Regions from separate parts of the Homo sapiens genome. Here region 1 is linked to region 2. The links come from fine-mapping of genetic effects on gene expression. A gene starts in region 2. The other region holds a variant in brackets. All regions are shown on one strand. Distances are from middle to middle. Region 1 overlaps CA6 (carbonic anhydrase 6). Region 2 holds the start of CA6 (carbonic anhydrase 6).

Region 1 (8,211 bases), 29 kb after region 2:
GGTGGACCCATCTCTTCTGGTGATATAAGGGAAGGAGAGTCATTTCAGTAGCAAGAGGCTCAGGTGGGCCAAGCTGCACAGGGCTTGGGCAGAGGGTGATGACTTTTTCCCAGTCCAGGCAGGGATGCCAGTGAGTAGAACACACGAGACAATCAGAAGCGACAGCTACGTGATTTATTACCTACCTAGTCTTGGCTAGAGAGAGCAGGAGAAGCAAGAAGACCACAACATCCGGAAGCTCTCACAAGAGTGTAGGTTCAAGTTAACCTTTTTTTTTTTTTTTTTTGAGACAGAGTCTCACTCTGTCACCCAGGCTGGAGTGCAGTGGTGCAATCTCGTCTCACTACAACCTCTGCTTCCCGGGTTCAAGCAATTCTCCTGCCTCAACCTCCCCAGTAGCTGGGACTACAGGCACCTACCACCACGCCCGGCTAATTTTTTTTTTTTAACTGAAATGGGGCTTTGCCATATTGGCCAGGCTGGTCCCAAACTCCTGACCTCAGGTGATCTGCCCACCTCGGCCTCCCAAAGTGCTGGGATTACAGGCGGGAGCCACCGTGCCTGGCCAAGTTAACCTTATTAACCCCACCCAGATTATTTCCTGCGCATCTTGATCATAGTCTGTGTTATGAACCCACCCCCAACGCCTCCTATACATTCTCTCAAAGTGGAGTTAACTAGACCACATATTGTTCCCTGCATCTGCCTGGGGCGCAGGCCCCAGACCCCAGCGTGCTGGAAGCAGGTGCGGGCAGGCCAGCCTCCGCTGCATCCTCCAGTTCCTTGGATCAGGCTCCAACCGTGTCCTTGGCTCACCTCGTTTCTGTGTTGGCAAGAGTGTAAATATTTCACAGCCTCCTCATCTTTATTTTGTCTGCTTTCTGTAAAGTTGTGGTGAATCCATTGTCTTTACAGCCCATTCTGTTAACCATTCCTGATACCTTTATATTTTCCAATACAGTAGAATCAGTATCCTATCAATATTGTGTACTCAATATTATCCCACTTTTTTTTTCTTTTTTGAGACAAGGTCTCAGTCTGTTGCCCAGGCTGGAGCTCAGTGGCACAATCACGGCTCACTGCAGCCTCAAACATCCAGGCTCAAGTGATCCTCCCACCTCAGCCTCCCCAGTAGCGGAGACTGCAGGCACACACCACCACACCCAGCTAATTTTTTTTGTAGTTTTTGTAGAGATGGACTCTTACTATGTTGCTCAGACTGGTCTCAAACTCCTGGCCACAAGCAATCCTCCCCCCTCAGCCTCCCAAAGTGCTGGGATTATAAGCACGAGCCACCTCGTTCGGCCTTATCCCATCTTTATATGTACCTTTTAAAACTTAAATTTCCTCCGGGTGTGGCGGCTCACGCCTGTAATCCCAGCACTTTGGGAGGCTGAGGCGGGCAGATCACGATGTCAGGAGATCGAGACCATCTTGGCTAACATGGTGAAACCCCGCCTCTACTAAATATACAAAAAATTAGCCAGGCGAGGTGGCGGGCGCCTGTAGTCCCAGCTACTGGGGAGGCTGAGACTGGGGAGGCTGAGTAGCTGGGCATGAACCCGGGAGGCGGAGCTTGCAGTGAGCCGAGATTGCGCCACTGCACTCCAGCCTGGGCGACAGAGAGAGACTCTGTTTCAAAAAACCAAAACAAACAAACAAACAAAAAAATTAAATTTCCACCTCCCCAACCCGAATAAGGCCTATTTGTGATTTTCTCCCCACCTTTCCTTCCTGGTTCACTTACTGAATTAACAGAGGATATAGGTGTTTTCTATATTGTTTCCTGAAATACAATTCACTCCTCCAATACAATACTAACAGAAGAAAAAAACTGACATCAGTTACAGTAATCATTTCCCCATATTATACCATATACAACATTAACAGCAAGAATCCCTTTGTCCGAAAGTGATGTCGTCTTTAACAGGTCCAATTGCAAGCAGGCTGACCAAAGGGAGCTTAGACTCATGGGTCTGTCTCCTAATTCTTTTGGAGTCTCTCACTCTGTCGCCCAGGCTGGAGTGCAGTGGTGCAATCTCATGGGCTCACTGCAACCTCCGCCTCCCAGATTCAAGCAATTCTCCTGCCTCAGCCTCCCAAGTAGCTGGGATTACAGGCACGCGCCCCCACGCCAGGCTAATTTTTGTATTTTTAGTAGAGATGGGATTTCACCATGTTGGTTAGGCTGGTCTTGAACTCCTGACCTCAGGTGATCCGCCTGCCCGGCCTCCCAAATTGCTGGGATTACAGGTGTGAGTCACTGTGCCCGGCCTGTCTCCTAGGTCTAAATGTTGCCATATTTCCCCTGCTTTCCCTAAAACAATTTTACGCTATTCTTGCAATAGTCACTAACAGACTGCGTATCGTTCTATTTGCCACATCTGAAATGCTTTTTCCACTACAGCGTCACTCTAGCATCTCCTCACGAGGGGGTCAGATGTTCTAGGTACCGGCCCCAGACTGAGGTATTCCATGCTGTGATTTGTCTGTAGGTCCACTAAGAATCGCTGTTTAGGATCGATTACTTCAACTCCCAGTTCAGCATCAGAGGGCTTCCTTACCCCCAGGGAACCCGAATTGTGGCCTCCCTTTGCTGATTATAGAACAGACAACTGGGCATCATCTTGGCCCACCTTCCCTCAGGCCTGGATTTTTCTTTCTCTCTCTTTCTTTCTTTCTTTCTTTCTTTCTTTCTTTCTTTCTTTCTTTCTTTCTTTCTTTCTTTCTTTCTTTCTTTCTTTTCCCTCCCTCCCTCTCTCTCTCTCTCTCTCTCTTTCTTCCTCTCTTTCTTTCTTTTTTTGACAGAGTCTTGCTCTGTTGCCCAGACTGGAGTGCAATGGCGCAATCTTGGCTCACTGCAGCCATGACCTCCAGGGCTCAAGCAGTCCTCCTACCTCGACCTCCCAAGTAGCTGGGAGTAGCATGTACCACCACACCCAGCTAATTTTTGTATTTTTTTGTAGAGACGGGCTTTGGCCATGTGGCCCAGGCTGGTCTCGAACTCCTGAGCTCAAGCAATCCACCCACTTCAGCCTCCCAAAGTGCTGGGATTACAGGCATGAGCCATCGCGCCTGGCCAGGCCCAGATTTCTATGTAGCAGTGATTGGCTGTGGTCAACCCAGCTGCGTGACTCATGGTATTTCACTGTTCTGTAGAGAACTGTATCCCAGCGGGGTTGATATGATTAACCCACCTGCAAGGAGTGAATTGAGAAACCAAGGTCAGTTACAAAAACAAGACGATGGCCAAATACGGACCTCTTGCGATTTATTTACTAGAAAACGCCTATATCCCCTCAGGCAAGGGCCACGGGGGGCATCGTGGGAGAAGCCAAAATCCAAGAGTACAGCCCACCTCAACACGCCACCCCTTGGCTCTGGGCAGCTTAGAAGCCTGAGTTCAAACACAGTGAAGATGACTAAAGGCAATGCACCGGGCACGTGGAGAGCATTCTAAGGAATCAAAAGACTTCCCAAAAATACGATGCGGGT[A/G]TGGTGTCTGGCCGTCCCCCTTCTCTGTTTTTGTGAGGACTGTACAAGGTTTAACCATTTCCGACTAACTCTTCTTTTTACAGAATACACTCTAGGCTCTGAATTCCAGTTTTACCTACATAAGATTGAGGAAATTCTTGACTACTTAAGAAGAGCATTGAACTGAGGAAAGCTAAGAGGAAGATTCAATATTAACTAGCTTGAAGCCTGACCTAGCCAGAAGTGCCTGTCCGCTGCAGCCGCACCCTACCTTGTCTAAGAAACCATGTGTGTCTGGAACACGCTGCTCCCCCTGGGGCAGCTGTTGGGATTCTGATTAAAAGAGGGGAAACGATCATCCTGGACAGGAAGTGAGATGGCTTCAGTTCATGAGACGGGATCTGAGTTAGACATCACCAGTGGAAATTGATTGGAATAGAAACTTAAAGGAAATGGAACCCTAACTATTCTCCCATCAAATCATATATGTTGACCTGTCTGAATTATAAACCAGCCTGACCTTTCCTTTAGCATTAGATGTAATAAAATAACTTTGGAAATTTGTCATTTAAAAATTTCTTTCCTATTCCTTTGTATTACTTCAAATATCCCTTCTTTGTTCTGCCCGCCCCCGACTCCTCCCCCCACTCCTCCCCCTACTCCCCCACAACCGCACATAGGTGAAGGGATAGAGATCAAAGTGGGAGGGATTTCCAAGACTAAGATTAATAAAAAGGAAGGAGGTGTTTTTTGTTGTTGTTGCTTATTTTTTTGAGATGGAGTCTCACTCTGTTGCCAGGCTGGAGTGCAGTGGCACAATCTTGGCTCACTGCAACCTCCACCTCTTGGGTTCAAGCAATTCTCCTGCCTCAGCCTCCCTGAGTAGCTGGGACTACAGTTGCGCACCACCATGCCCAGCTAATTTTTTGTATTTTTAGTAGAGACGGGGTTTCACCATGTTGCTCAGGATGGTCTCGATCTCTTGACCTTATGATCCGCCCGCCTCGGCCTCCCAAAGTGCTGGGATTACAGGCGTGAGCCACCGCGCCTGGCCTTTTCTTTTCCTTTGAGACAGAGCCTCGCTTTGTTGCTCAGGCTGGAATCCAGTGGTATAATTTTACTGCAACCTCTGCCTTCTGGGTTCAAGCAATTATTCTGCCTCAGCCTCCCAAGTAGTTGGGATTACAGGTGTGCACCACCACGCCCAGCTAATTTTTGTATTTTTAGTAGAGATGGGGTTTTGCCATGTTGGCCAGGCTGGTCTCAAACTCCTGATCTCAGGTGATCCTCCTGCCTCGGCCTCCCAAAGTGTTGGGATTACGGGCGTGAGCCACCACCCCTGGCCTAGGAAGAGATTCTTACACTGAGAATTTGTCAGTGGGGAAGTTTGGAGCAGTGGCTGTGAGTCAAAGAAAAAACAGGAGACGAGAAAGAAGAAGGGCTCCCAGGACAGAAGGAAAGAAGAGAGGGGACCTCACTGCAAACCCCCTTGTTGGTCAAATGGTGCCTGGTCCTTGTTACCAGACCCAGATTCAGGCATCCCATTAGTTATGTGGGATGATAACATGACCTCACAGGGCTCATAGGGCTGTGGCTTCATTAAATAACACTGAGAAGTACCCAGAAGAGTGACCCATATTTTTTTTATCATTAAATAACACTGAGAAGTACCCAGAAGAGTGACCCATATTTTTTATTTTTATTTTTATGTTTTTTGAGACAGGATCTTGCTCTGTGGCCTAGGCTGGAGTGCAGTGGTGATCCTAGCTTCATGGCAGCCTCAACCTCCTGGGCTCAAGTGATCTTCCTACCTTTGGTCTCCCAAGGTGCTGGAATTATAGGCATGAGCCACCACACCTGGCTGCTACCAATTTTCTTGGTCACTTATGCATTCCCTTCATCGATGCCCCTTCCTTCCCATGCCTTAGCTTCCTCCTCACTTCTGATTGAGCTCACCCTGGCTCTTCTGAATTCCTTCTGCTCTTGTTACCTCTGTTGTTTTTCCATGTCATTATTTGTCATATCCTAAGCACTTCCACCACACGTGACTGCCCTCAGCCCCGAAGGCCACCTTCAGTGAACTTGCATTATCCCCAGTTTACAGAAAGCAAACCAAGACGTCGACTTGCCCAAGATCTCCTAGGTGGCAGATGAAAAGCCAGGATTTGAACCCAAGTCTTTTGTATCCACATTCTTTTAACCATAGGAAGCCTCCCTTTCATTTTCTCAACAAGCTTTCTTATGCACTTGCTCTGAGCCTGACATAACACTAGGTGCTGGGGGTTCAGGGATGGGTGAGAACAGCTCCCACACTCCTACAGCTCGGGTCTGGTGAGCAGAGTGGACACTAAAATAAGTAATCGCCATATCGCCCCATGGTGGAGGGAGCGCCTGTGTTTAAAATCCAAGTGCTTGGCCTGGGTTTTGAAGGCTGAGAAAGAGTTCACCTGGGAAACCAAGTCAGAGAGGGGCGGGGGTATTGTAACCCGAGAGTGTGGCATGTGCTGATGGGAAGACACCTGGGGAAGTGGAAGCAATTTGGCGTGGTCAGAGGACCAAGTTCAAGGATGCTGGCACGGAAAGCGGGGGTGTGGCCAGGGCAGGTCAGGCCGTCACTGGTATCTTCTGTGCCACTAAAGGGTTTCGGATTTTACCCTGTAGGTGACGGCAGCGACTGCAGGGTTTCCACAGGGGAACGACACGGTGCGATTCATTCTTTCCACCAGATATGTGTGTCTATAATGAATGAGAGACGCAACAGTGGGCGGTACGGCCAAAGAGCTTACTTACATTCCTGTGGGAAGGCAGACAAGGAAATGAAGATGGAGATGGGATTACACTTGCCTGTCCTCAGGGATCCAGCCCTCCCACCCCTGAAAGTCTATCCTTAAGAGAGGCTTGTGGCCGGGCGCGGTGGCTCACGCCTGTAATCCCAGCACTTTGGGAGGCCGAGGTGGGTGGATCATCAGGTCAGAAGATCGAGGCCATCCTGGCCAACATGGTGAAACCCCATCTCTACTAAAAATACAAAAAAATTAGCTGGGTGTGGCGTGCATCTGTAATCCCAGCTACTCGGGAGACTGAGGCAGGAGAATCGCTTGAACCCAGGAGGCGGAGGTTGCAGTGAGCTGAGATCGTGCCACTGCACTCCAGCCTGGCGACAGAGCAAGACTCCATCTCAAAAAAGAAAGAAAGAAAGAAAGAAAGAAAGAAAGAAAGAAAGAAAGAAAGAAAGAAAGAAAGAAAGAAAGAAACTTGCAAAAAAGCCATTCATGCTGACCTTTTTAACAGCAAAATACAGGAAAAAACACAAACGTCCATCAGTTGGGGATTGGTTGACTAAACCAGGGCTATTCACACAACAGAGAACTGCATAGGGAATAATCTCTAGGCTACATTTGTTTCTTTTTTTTGAGATGGAGTCTCTGTCACCCAGGCTGGAGTGCAGTGGTACGATCTCAGCTCACTGCAACCTCTGCCTCCCAGGCTCGAGTGATTCTTCTGTCTCAGCCTCCTGAGTAGCTGGGATTACAGGTGCATGCCACTAACGCCCTGGCTAATTTTTGTAATTTTAGTAGAGATGGGTTTTGCCATGTCGGCCAGGCTGATCTCGAACTCCTGACCTCAGATCATCTGCCCGCTTTGGCCTCCCAAAGTGCTGGGATTACAGGCATGAGCCACTGCGCTTGGCCTGTAGGCTATGTTTTTAAGCCTGAAAAAAGCAATTTTACAGATGGCACAAGAAGAATTAGAAATATGAATATAGTTAAGTATTTGTTTATGTTTTGAAGCACAAACAGGGAAAAAGAAACCAAAAATAAATTAAAATGGTTTCCTAGGCTAGGCGCGGTGGCTCACGCCTGTAATCCCAGCACTTTGGGAGGCCGAGGGGGGCGGATCACGAGGTCAGGAGATCAAGACCATCCTGGCTAACACAGTGAAACCCCGTCTCTACTAAAAATACAAAAAATTAGGCGGGCGTAGTGGCGGGCATCTGTAGTCCCAGCTACTAGGGAGGCTGAGGCAGGAGAATGGCATGAACCCGGGAGGCGGAGCTTGCAGTGAGCCGAGATCGCGCCACTGCACTCCAGCCTGGGCGAAAGAGCAAGTCTCTGTCTCAAAAAAAAAAAAAAAAAAAAAAAAAAAAAAAAAAAAAACAACAACAACAAAAAAAGGTTTCCTAAAAAGAGAAGGCAGGGGAAGGGTGCTGAGGGTGGCGTGGGAAGGTGGAGTTTTCTGGATGTGCCCTGTTTGGTAGTTTTGACTTTGGAACATCAGGCTTTATGTAATTGCAAAGTAAAATTAAGTAAGTAAGGAAAAAAGCATTCCTGAAACATAAAACGCGAGTTACGTTTCAACATAAAAATATAGCAGAACAATTGAACAATTATACATAGGGCCGGTGGCATGAACACTGAAGGATTTTTTCATGTTATTTTAGACACGGTATTTTTCATCTACATACCTGCTGCAGTATATCCTAAGGACAAGAAGAAGTACCAAGGAATCTTAAACAGTACTTAGGAATCCTCTTAAAAATTATATTGGTATTGTTATTTTGAAATTGTGTGTGTGTGCAATTACTATCCTCTACTACTATATGTGCACAAATAATTATGTTAATGTCCTCACTAACAAGATTTTCAGCATAAAAAACAGAGATCCAAATTGAAAAATTAGGCTGGGCTTCATGGCTGACACCTTTAATCACAGCACTTTGGGAGGCTGAGGTGGGAG
Region 2 (8,395 bases):
ACAGGTGTGAGCCACCGTGCCTGGCCTGCCAGACTCATTCTTTTATGCTGGTCCTGTGCAGCCTGGGCTAACGGTGCCTCCCTAGTCATTTGGTTCATGATCTGTCCCTGCTCACCTGGGCTGATGGTGCCTTCTTGCCCACCTGGGCTGGCCATGCCTCCCTGCCTCCTTCTTTTTCCTTGCCTCAGTGGGCCTTGTCGGGGGGGCAGTGGTAGAAGCAAGGAAGAACAAAGGCTCCTTTCTCCCTTTGACCTGATGTTGTAATAATGATAAACTTGTCAACTCATCTCCGACAGCCAATCCAACCATAGACCCTAGAAAAATAGGAGTTTAGAATTAAAAAAACAACCTTGATCAGCCAAGGATATGGTTGGATGAAGGCAGAAGGAAGCTCATAGCATAGAGAGACACACTAAAAATAAAAGCAACAAAAACAGAGCACACATAGGGCACGCACCTGTTGTCCCAGCTACTTGGAGGGGATGAGGCGGAAGGGGGTGCTGAGGCGGGAGGATCACCTGAGCACTGGGAGGCTGCAGTGAGCCATGATTGCACCACTGCACTCCAGCCTGGGCAACAGAGTGAGACCCTGTCTCAAAAAAGAAACCAAAAACCAAAAACAACAACAACAAAAACCCACTGCCACCACCACCAACAAAAGCAAACCCAAACAAACAATGTGCCTCCCAAATCCAAGAAGAAGACTCATGTTCAAAGGTGACGGAAAATTTCAGGTTTGAAGTAGACAAGGAGTCAGAAAATAGGCAACACTACTGACCACACCTGATTCTGGGTCCAGTATGTCCTTGGCAGTGTGCTGTACAGCGGAGGGAGGGGACCCTCTCTCTAGAAATATGCCCTCGTTGGCAGATGGCCTTGCTTCTCCAAGAGGCCATCATCTGATCTGACCCCCGTATTGCCTTAATTACTCACTTTCACACCAATTCTCAACACCAGCCAGGTCAACAGGTTGCTGGCCAGTCCAGGCTCTTGCCTGAGCGAAAGGCAAAACCAGGGCAAAGCTTCAGATGTGATGGGTGGATACGCTGCACAGCAGTTCTGCAGAGGGGCTGCTGGCATCACAGCTTCACAGACGCAGTATGTGCACTGTATTTTAAGGAGCTGTGTGAGGCAAGGAACGCCCCAGAGCTCTCCTGGGAAGCCCCAAATGCTCACCGCAGGGCAGTGAGACCCGTGGGGCTGGGAGCTGCCAGGAGTGGTGGGCCCTCTGCATTTCACTGTGCTCTCCCGCAAGCACTCCTCTCTCTGACTCTCCAGGGCCCCTCTTTGGGCAGTCTTCCCCTCCCCCTTGGCCCAGGCTTTCTCTGAGCTCCTTCCTGCTCCAGTTCCCCTCGCCTGGGCTCATCCAGTCCTCCCAGGCTTCCGTGACAGCCTGACATTTTAGTCTCTGCCTGCCTGCAGCTCCCTGATTCTTTCTGGGTCTCCCAATTCAGATTCCCAAGAAAAAATTCAGATGACTGAGTTTGTGTTTTCCTGCCAGTTTGATGTCAGGGGTCCTGCCTGGGCTTGTAAAGGGTCTTGGTCTCCTCAGCAGAGGTGGGGCCTTGTGATTTACAAGGTGGCCCTTTCCGCAGGGCTGGGAGTCAGCAGGTGGGCGTCACTGGTTTAGCAAGGACAGAAGAGTAGGTTTCTCATTTTTGCAAAGAAATGGTCCATAAGCTGGAGATTGAAGCATTTTTCCTCCAGTTCCCTCACTAACCAGCTGGGTGGCAATGATAAATCACTTCCTTTTCCTATAAAATGAGGGGTCTGAATAGATGCTAATGCCATTTGCTACACACCAGGCACTGCTCCAACTACTGCAGGCACATTTATTGCCGAATCCCCACAAAGGAGGTGCTATCACTAACTCCTTTTAAAGAAAGGAGGCGGCCAGGTGCGGCGGCTCACGCCTGTAATCCCAGCACTTTGGGAGCACGAGGCGGGAGAATCGCTTGAGTCCAGGAGTTTGAGGCCAGCCTAAGCAACATGGTGAAAACCTGTATCTACAAAAAGTACAAAAATTAGCAGGGCGTAGTGGCATGCGACTGTGGTCCCAGCTACTTGGGAAGCTGAGGCAGGAGGATTGCTTGAGTCCAAGAGAAGTGAGCTGAAATCGTATCATTGCACTCCAGCCTGGTGACAGAGAGAGACCCTGTCTCAAAAAAGAAAGAAAGAGAGAAAGAGAGAAAGAAAAGAAAGAGAGAAAGGAAGAAAGAAAGAGAAAAAAGAAAAGGAAGGAAAGCTGAGGCACAGAGCGCTGAGTTGCCCATGGTCACACAGTTAGCAGGTGGCACAGATCCTGTCTAGTTTCAGAATCCTTGTCCTTGAACATGCTTTGCTCTCTCTCTGAGATTCTTTCAGCTCTTGAGCTTTAGAAATGGAAGTTTCCAGCAAGTTCTTTGCAGCAGCTGATGTTCCCTATTAAATGACAGTGGGGAGTCTTAGAAGTATTCGGGAGGCCTACGTTCACCGCTAACATCCTTGTTGTGAAGGCCTGCTGACGTTTGCCATTCCAGGACCAAGTGGACAATGAGTTAAGCTAGGCCAGGAGGGGGTTCAGCTCCCCATAACAAGGCAGGGGTGGCCCTTTGTGTCCGGCAGCATGGTAGCCCCCCCGCAGGAGCTCCGGCTACCCTTTGTGTTTGACCTTGTGGAAGGGCATGGGAAATGCTGGCCTGTCAGCAGGCATAAACTCAAAAGTTTCTCCTTCAGCTAATTTCAGGGACTGTCTAGCCAAGTGAATACACAGGATTAGGTAATCCATGGATCCTGCGAGGGCAATTGGCTGATTGGCTTAGGTGTGCCCAAGAGCCCTGCAGGTGTCAGAACAAATCCATGTAGAAATGCAGACGCCCACACCAGCTTGAATGGCATAAAGGCACACATTGGAATGTGGCTCATGAGCTGGGACCCAGGATCAACCACTGGTTTAAGGAGAGGACCGTGAAATGTCCAAACATGGAGGCCAGGCCACCTCCCTGGATGCCTGGCTGAGGGCAGCCACATGTCTGCAGCGGTGGCTTGTGTCCATGACTGAGATGGGCAGGGTTTGCAGGCAGTGGTGATCCCATCAGCAGTCCCCAGATCTCTAATGTCAGGAGAAAGAGCATGGGAAGTCCGACGTCCAGGAAAGTCTTTCATCCTGCTTCTCCCTGCCTTGGGCCTTTTCCCATTTCCGCGGTCACCTGTCCACAATGGCTGCACTGTGTGGCTCTTCAGGTGTTCCTAAGACACTGAACAACCAAACCCATGGACTGACCGGATATGAAATTGACGTGGGAGGAGATCAGGCAGGTGCTGGGGCTGCCTGGCGCAATGCACGGAGCCAGAAGTGCTGTTATGGGGAGGGTGTTATTGTTTTAGTGGGTGCAGCAAAGGGTGGTTTAGCCAGCTGGGCAGATCAATTGTAAATTGTTATTTACAGTTTCTGAGCCTTTAAAAGAAGAGCTTCGCCGGAATCAGTCTTCATTACAGATGTGCAGCACCATGAGGGCCCTGGTGCTTCTGCTGTCCCTGTTCCTGCTGGGTGGCCAGGCCCAGCATGTGTCTGACTGGACCTACTCAGGTGAGCCCCTAGCTTCTGCATGCTCCCCCAGTTACCCTCACACCCTTACAACAGGACAAGTGCCCTTCTTCTTCTTCTTTTTTTTTTTTTTAGACAAAGTCTTGCTCTGTTGCCCAGGCTTGAGTACAGTAGTGTGATGTTGGCTCACTGCAACCTCCGCCTCCCGGGTTCAAGTGATTCTGCTGCCTTAGCCTCCCGAGTACCTGGGATTACAGGTGCCTGCCACCATGCCTGGCTAATTTTTGTATTTTTAGTAGAGACAGGGTTTCACCATGTTGTCCAGGCTGGTCTCGAACTCCTGACCTTAGGTGATCTGCCCATCTCCCAAAGTGCTGGGATTACAGGCATGAGCCATTGCGCCCGGCCAAGAGTCCTCCTTTAGGGCATTTCACAGGATGGCCAGGCAGCCCACTTGCCATATGTTGGGGGTCTGCTCATTGTGGCTTCAGATGTTACCTTTTCAGTGTCTCAGAAGGTATGGAGAATAAGCTGAACTTAAACTTCAAATAAGGAAAAGAAGGAAATAGCTTTCCCCTTCACAAACTCCTGATTTACTTACAGGCTTTTTGCTTTAAATTTTTTTCCATCCACAGTGTTGGCTGGTTCAAAAGCACACTCACTGCTTCTATTTGTAAAACCATTTGCTTTGTTGGTCCGTGTAAGTGGAAAACAAAGTTCTTAGAAAAGACTCTCGGTAACCTCACGGAAGGTGCTGTGGGGTTTGCGAGACCTTCTTTCTTGGAAATTTCATGGTAGGCAGTTTACCCAGAACATCTTGACATAAGGACCCAGTTCCCTTTGATCTGTGGGCTGCCAAAATGAGAGGTGTTTTTTTTTTTGTTTTTTTTTTTTTTTTGAGACAGAGTCTTGCTCTGTTGCCCAGGCTGGAGTTCAGTGGTGCCATCTCGGCTTACTGCAACCTCTGCCTCCTGGTTTCAAGCGATTCTCATGTCTTAGCCTCCCAAGTAGCTGGGATTACAGGCACTCATCACCATGCCTGGCTAACTTTTGTATTTTTAGTGGAGATGGGGTTTTACCACGTTGGCCAGGCTGTTCTCAAACTTCTGACCTCAAGTGATCCGCCCACCTTAGCCTCCCAAAGTGCTGGGATTACAGGCGTGAGCCACCGCGCCAGGCCCCAAACCAGACTTTTAAAATGTGAAATGTAAAATCCTGGCATTCAACATGGGTTCTGGTCCACATGTGAGCCAAAGCTAGAAGGCCGTGTCTGTGGACTTTGTGGACACTAAACAGCCCTTTCCAGGGGCAGTGAGGAGAGCTTCTTCCCGCATCCCCCTTCTTTCCATACGGGACCATGGATTGGGGCCCATGAGGAGGCTGGTGGCCGCTGGCTGATGCAGGAAGTGAGACAAACATCTGCTTCCTGCAGAGTCTGCCCCAGTTCAGCTGCTCCGGAAGCATTCCTTCAGGGTGAACGGGATGATCTGTTAAGTCAAGGGCAACGGAATTAGGGACATCCTGGGAGGTTCAGAAAGTCCAGCCAGCTCTGAACAACCGCTCTGTTCCTGAGGACAGTGATCTTACACATGGCAGTGCCTCGGAAGCCTGGGGCATTCTGCTTCACTTGGCCAAGCAGTGCAGGCAGGTGGTTCAGAGGTGAAGGAAGAGAGAATTCAGACAATGAAGTCCTTGTCCTTCCCAGGCTCTGCCCAGCCTCTGAGACAGTGGGCTTCCTGGGAAACTACTAGGGGCTCCAGGAGAACTTGAGAGTAGCTTTTGTAAATGCCTTCCAGGGAAACCTGAGAGATGTTCCAGTATTGACAGTGCCCTGGGCCAAAGCATCTTGCTCTGAGAAGGCGTTGTGCTCCAGGCCAATTGCCTTGATTACAAACCAAAAAGCGGTGAGGGCCCTAGTACAGACACCTTTTTTTTTTTTTTTGAGAGTTTCACTCTCGTTGCCCAGGCTGGAGTGCAGTGGCGCGATCTCGGCTCACCGCAACCTCTGCCTCCTGGGTTCAAGTGATTCTCCTGCCTTAGCCTCTCAAGTAGCTGGGATTAACGGCATGTGCCACCATGCCCGGCTGATTGTTTTTTATTTTTAGTAGAGATGGAGTTTCTCCAGGTTTGTCAGGGTGGGTCTCGAGCTCCCAACCTTAGGTGATCCACCCGCCTCGGCCTCCCAAAGTGTTGGGATTACAGGCATGAGCCACCGTGCCCAGCCACAAACACCTGTCTTAAAACAAGCTGTGTACTCACCACACAGCTACCCCCGAACAGGGAACAGAGGTGGGATTCTCCATGTCACATGGCTGACTCCAAGCTCCACAGCTGTATGGGAGCCAAGTCACCATGATAATCACTCACCTATGTTACTCTGTCCCCTACGATTATCAACCCTCTCTGAAAAGATAAACTTTCTCCTTATGAATTTTAAAAAAGTACTCATTCTAGGTTGTCCTGGAACCTGATGCTTCCTTAGTTTCCCTGAATCCATAAGTGTAGACACCTAGATGGTCTTTACCATACGGGAATCCATAAAAGGGGCTGGAGCAAGAAAATAGTGGTGGGGGGTTCCTGCAGCATGGGGAGGTGGGGGCTGTGTTCCTGTTGGGGGCATGGAAGGACAACTGGGCCCTTGGGAGGAAATGAGGAAGAGGCCCCAGGAGCAGCACAGGAAGAGCAAAGCCAAGGATCCCTCCATGCATTCACCAGCTGGAAATAAGTCAAACGAGAGCAAAAATTTACGTATAAAACACTCTCAGGCCGGGCACGGTGGCTCACGCCTGTAATCCCAGCACTTTGGGAGGCCAAGGTGGGTGGATCACCTGAGGTCAGGAGTTAGAGATCAGCCTGGCCAACATGGTGAAACCCCGTCTCTACTAAAAATACAAAAATTAGCCAGGCGTGGTGGTGCATGCCTGTAATCCCAGCTACTCCGGAGGCTGATGCCGGATAATCTCTTGAATCTGGGAGGCAGAGGTTGCAGTGAGCCAAGATTGCACCACTGCACTCCAACCTGGGTGACACAGCGAGACCCTGTCTCAAAAAAAAAAAAAAAAGACTTCCATTGATTTCAAAACACTGTCTTGCTCCCAGGGCCAGCAGTTGCCACAGGAAAGTTAGAGGTTAGCACCAAAGCCCCCCAAACACCAGAGTCCTTGGAGTTGACCTCGTTGTCTTTTTGGCCTCCTTCTGGGGGACCTGCTTCTGCTTTCTGGAAGGTGCCTCCGTGGGTCCCCGCCCAGCAGGCCCTGGCCTCTGGCCTCTGGCCTGGTGAGGTTCCTCCAGAGTGGGCGCAGCCAGGCAGCCCCTTGAACTGTGTCTTTCCTGTCTTAGAAGGGGCACTGGACGAAGCGCACTGGCCACAGCACTACCCCGCCTGTGGGGGCCAGAGACAGTCGCCTATCAACCTACAGAGGACGAAGGTGCGGTACAACCCCTCCTTGAAGGGGCTCAATATGACAGGCTATGAGACCCAGGCAGGGGAGTTCCCCATGGTCAACAATGGCCACACAGGTAAGAGGAAGGGGTGGTGAGGGGCTCCAGTCCATGGGCAGCCTGCAGGGGAAGGCAGGTTACACGTGTCCCTGCCAGGAATGGCTTGCACAGAGACACAGAGCACGGCCTCAGAGCTGGAGGCCTCGAACATGAGGGTCGAACATGAGGGCTGACTGGCCCCGAAACCTAGTGGCTCTTCCAGAGAGGGCAGCATCCATCTTTCGACTCAACTCCCTGCTGGTCCCTTCCTGCAGCGTTATCCTCTTACCCGAGCTCACCCAACCCACCCAGCAGGTGACAGGCAGGACAGGCCGTGCTGCTGAAGCCACCCTTCCCACGGGGGCTTTCTGTCCATCACCTTGGGTCAGCTTTTCCACATTTCCTATATTGAGTCTATTCAGCTCAAAGCACCTGACAGGTAGGACCAGGGTTTCTCAGAGTTTTAAGAAGAAAGCTCTGGCTTTCTGATCCCTACAAGAAAGAAGGTGAAGGTCAGACAGAAAAAGCAGGGCCGTGGGGATGCCCCACTTCAGGAATCCGATATGAGAAACTGTAAATTTTGTTTATTTTTTTGAGACAGAGTCTCACTCTGTTGCCCAGGCTGGAGTGCAGTGGCAGGATCTCAGCTCACTGCAACCTCCACCTCCTGGGTTCAAGCGATTCTCCTGCCTCAGCCTCCTGAGTAGCTGGGATTACAGGCATGCACCACCATGCCCAGCTAATTTTTTTTGTATTTTTAGTAGAGACGAGGTTTCACCATGTTGGCCAGGCTGGTCTGGAACTCCTGACCTCAAGTTATCTGCCCACCTTAGCCTCCCCAAAGTGCTGGGATTACAGGCACGAGCCACCATGCCCGGCCTGGAAACTGTGAAATCTGTGCTTTACTTGTGCAGAATATCCTCCTGATTTTCCAAGTTGGCTCGACTCCTCTGAGCCTCATGACCACCCCAGGAGGGGGCATTTTTTAGGCAGGAAGTCTGAGGCCTCAGGAGGTCGAGGGACTCACCCAAGGCCACACACTGTCTAATGGCCAAGATGGGCTCACACCCCCAGTTGTCAGGTTTCTTGGCCACATCCTCCTTAGGTTCTGCACTCTCTCACTCCTGCTTGGGTTGAGATACATCCCTGCCTGCCACACAGCGATAGGACAGTCACTGGACTTGGCCAGGCATGGTGGCTCATGCCTGTAAACCCAGTACTTTAGGAGGCTGAGGTGGGAGGATCACTTGATGCCAGAGTTTGAGACCAACCTGGGCAACTTGGTGAGACTTCATCTCTACAAAAAATCAAAACATTAGCCAGGAGTGGTGGTGAGTGCCTGTAGTCCCAGCTACTCGGGAGGCTGAGGTGGGAGGATCACTTGAGCCT

The links.
Region 1: its variant is fine-mapped to the expression of CA6 in whole blood (TOPMed, PIP above 0.99). The same link has a PIP of 0.9 or more in sun-exposed skin.

Annotation. Positions count from the first base shown.
Region 1 is chr1:8,971,044-8,979,254 of GRCh38, forward strand. CA6 (carbonic anhydrase 6) reads left to right here. Exons shown (of 8, transcript NM_001215.4): 8 at 3,579-4,049. The coding sequence ends at 3,661. Among named protein-coding and RNA genes, the nearest start is that of CA6, 29 kb to the left of the region's middle. The variant A/G (reference allele first, on the strand shown) is at 3,496.
Region 2 is chr1:8,942,398-8,950,792 of GRCh38, forward strand. CA6 (carbonic anhydrase 6) reads left to right here and starts at 3,471. Exons shown (of 8, transcript NM_001215.4): 1 at 3,471-3,568; 2 at 6,866-7,045. The coding sequence starts at 3,490.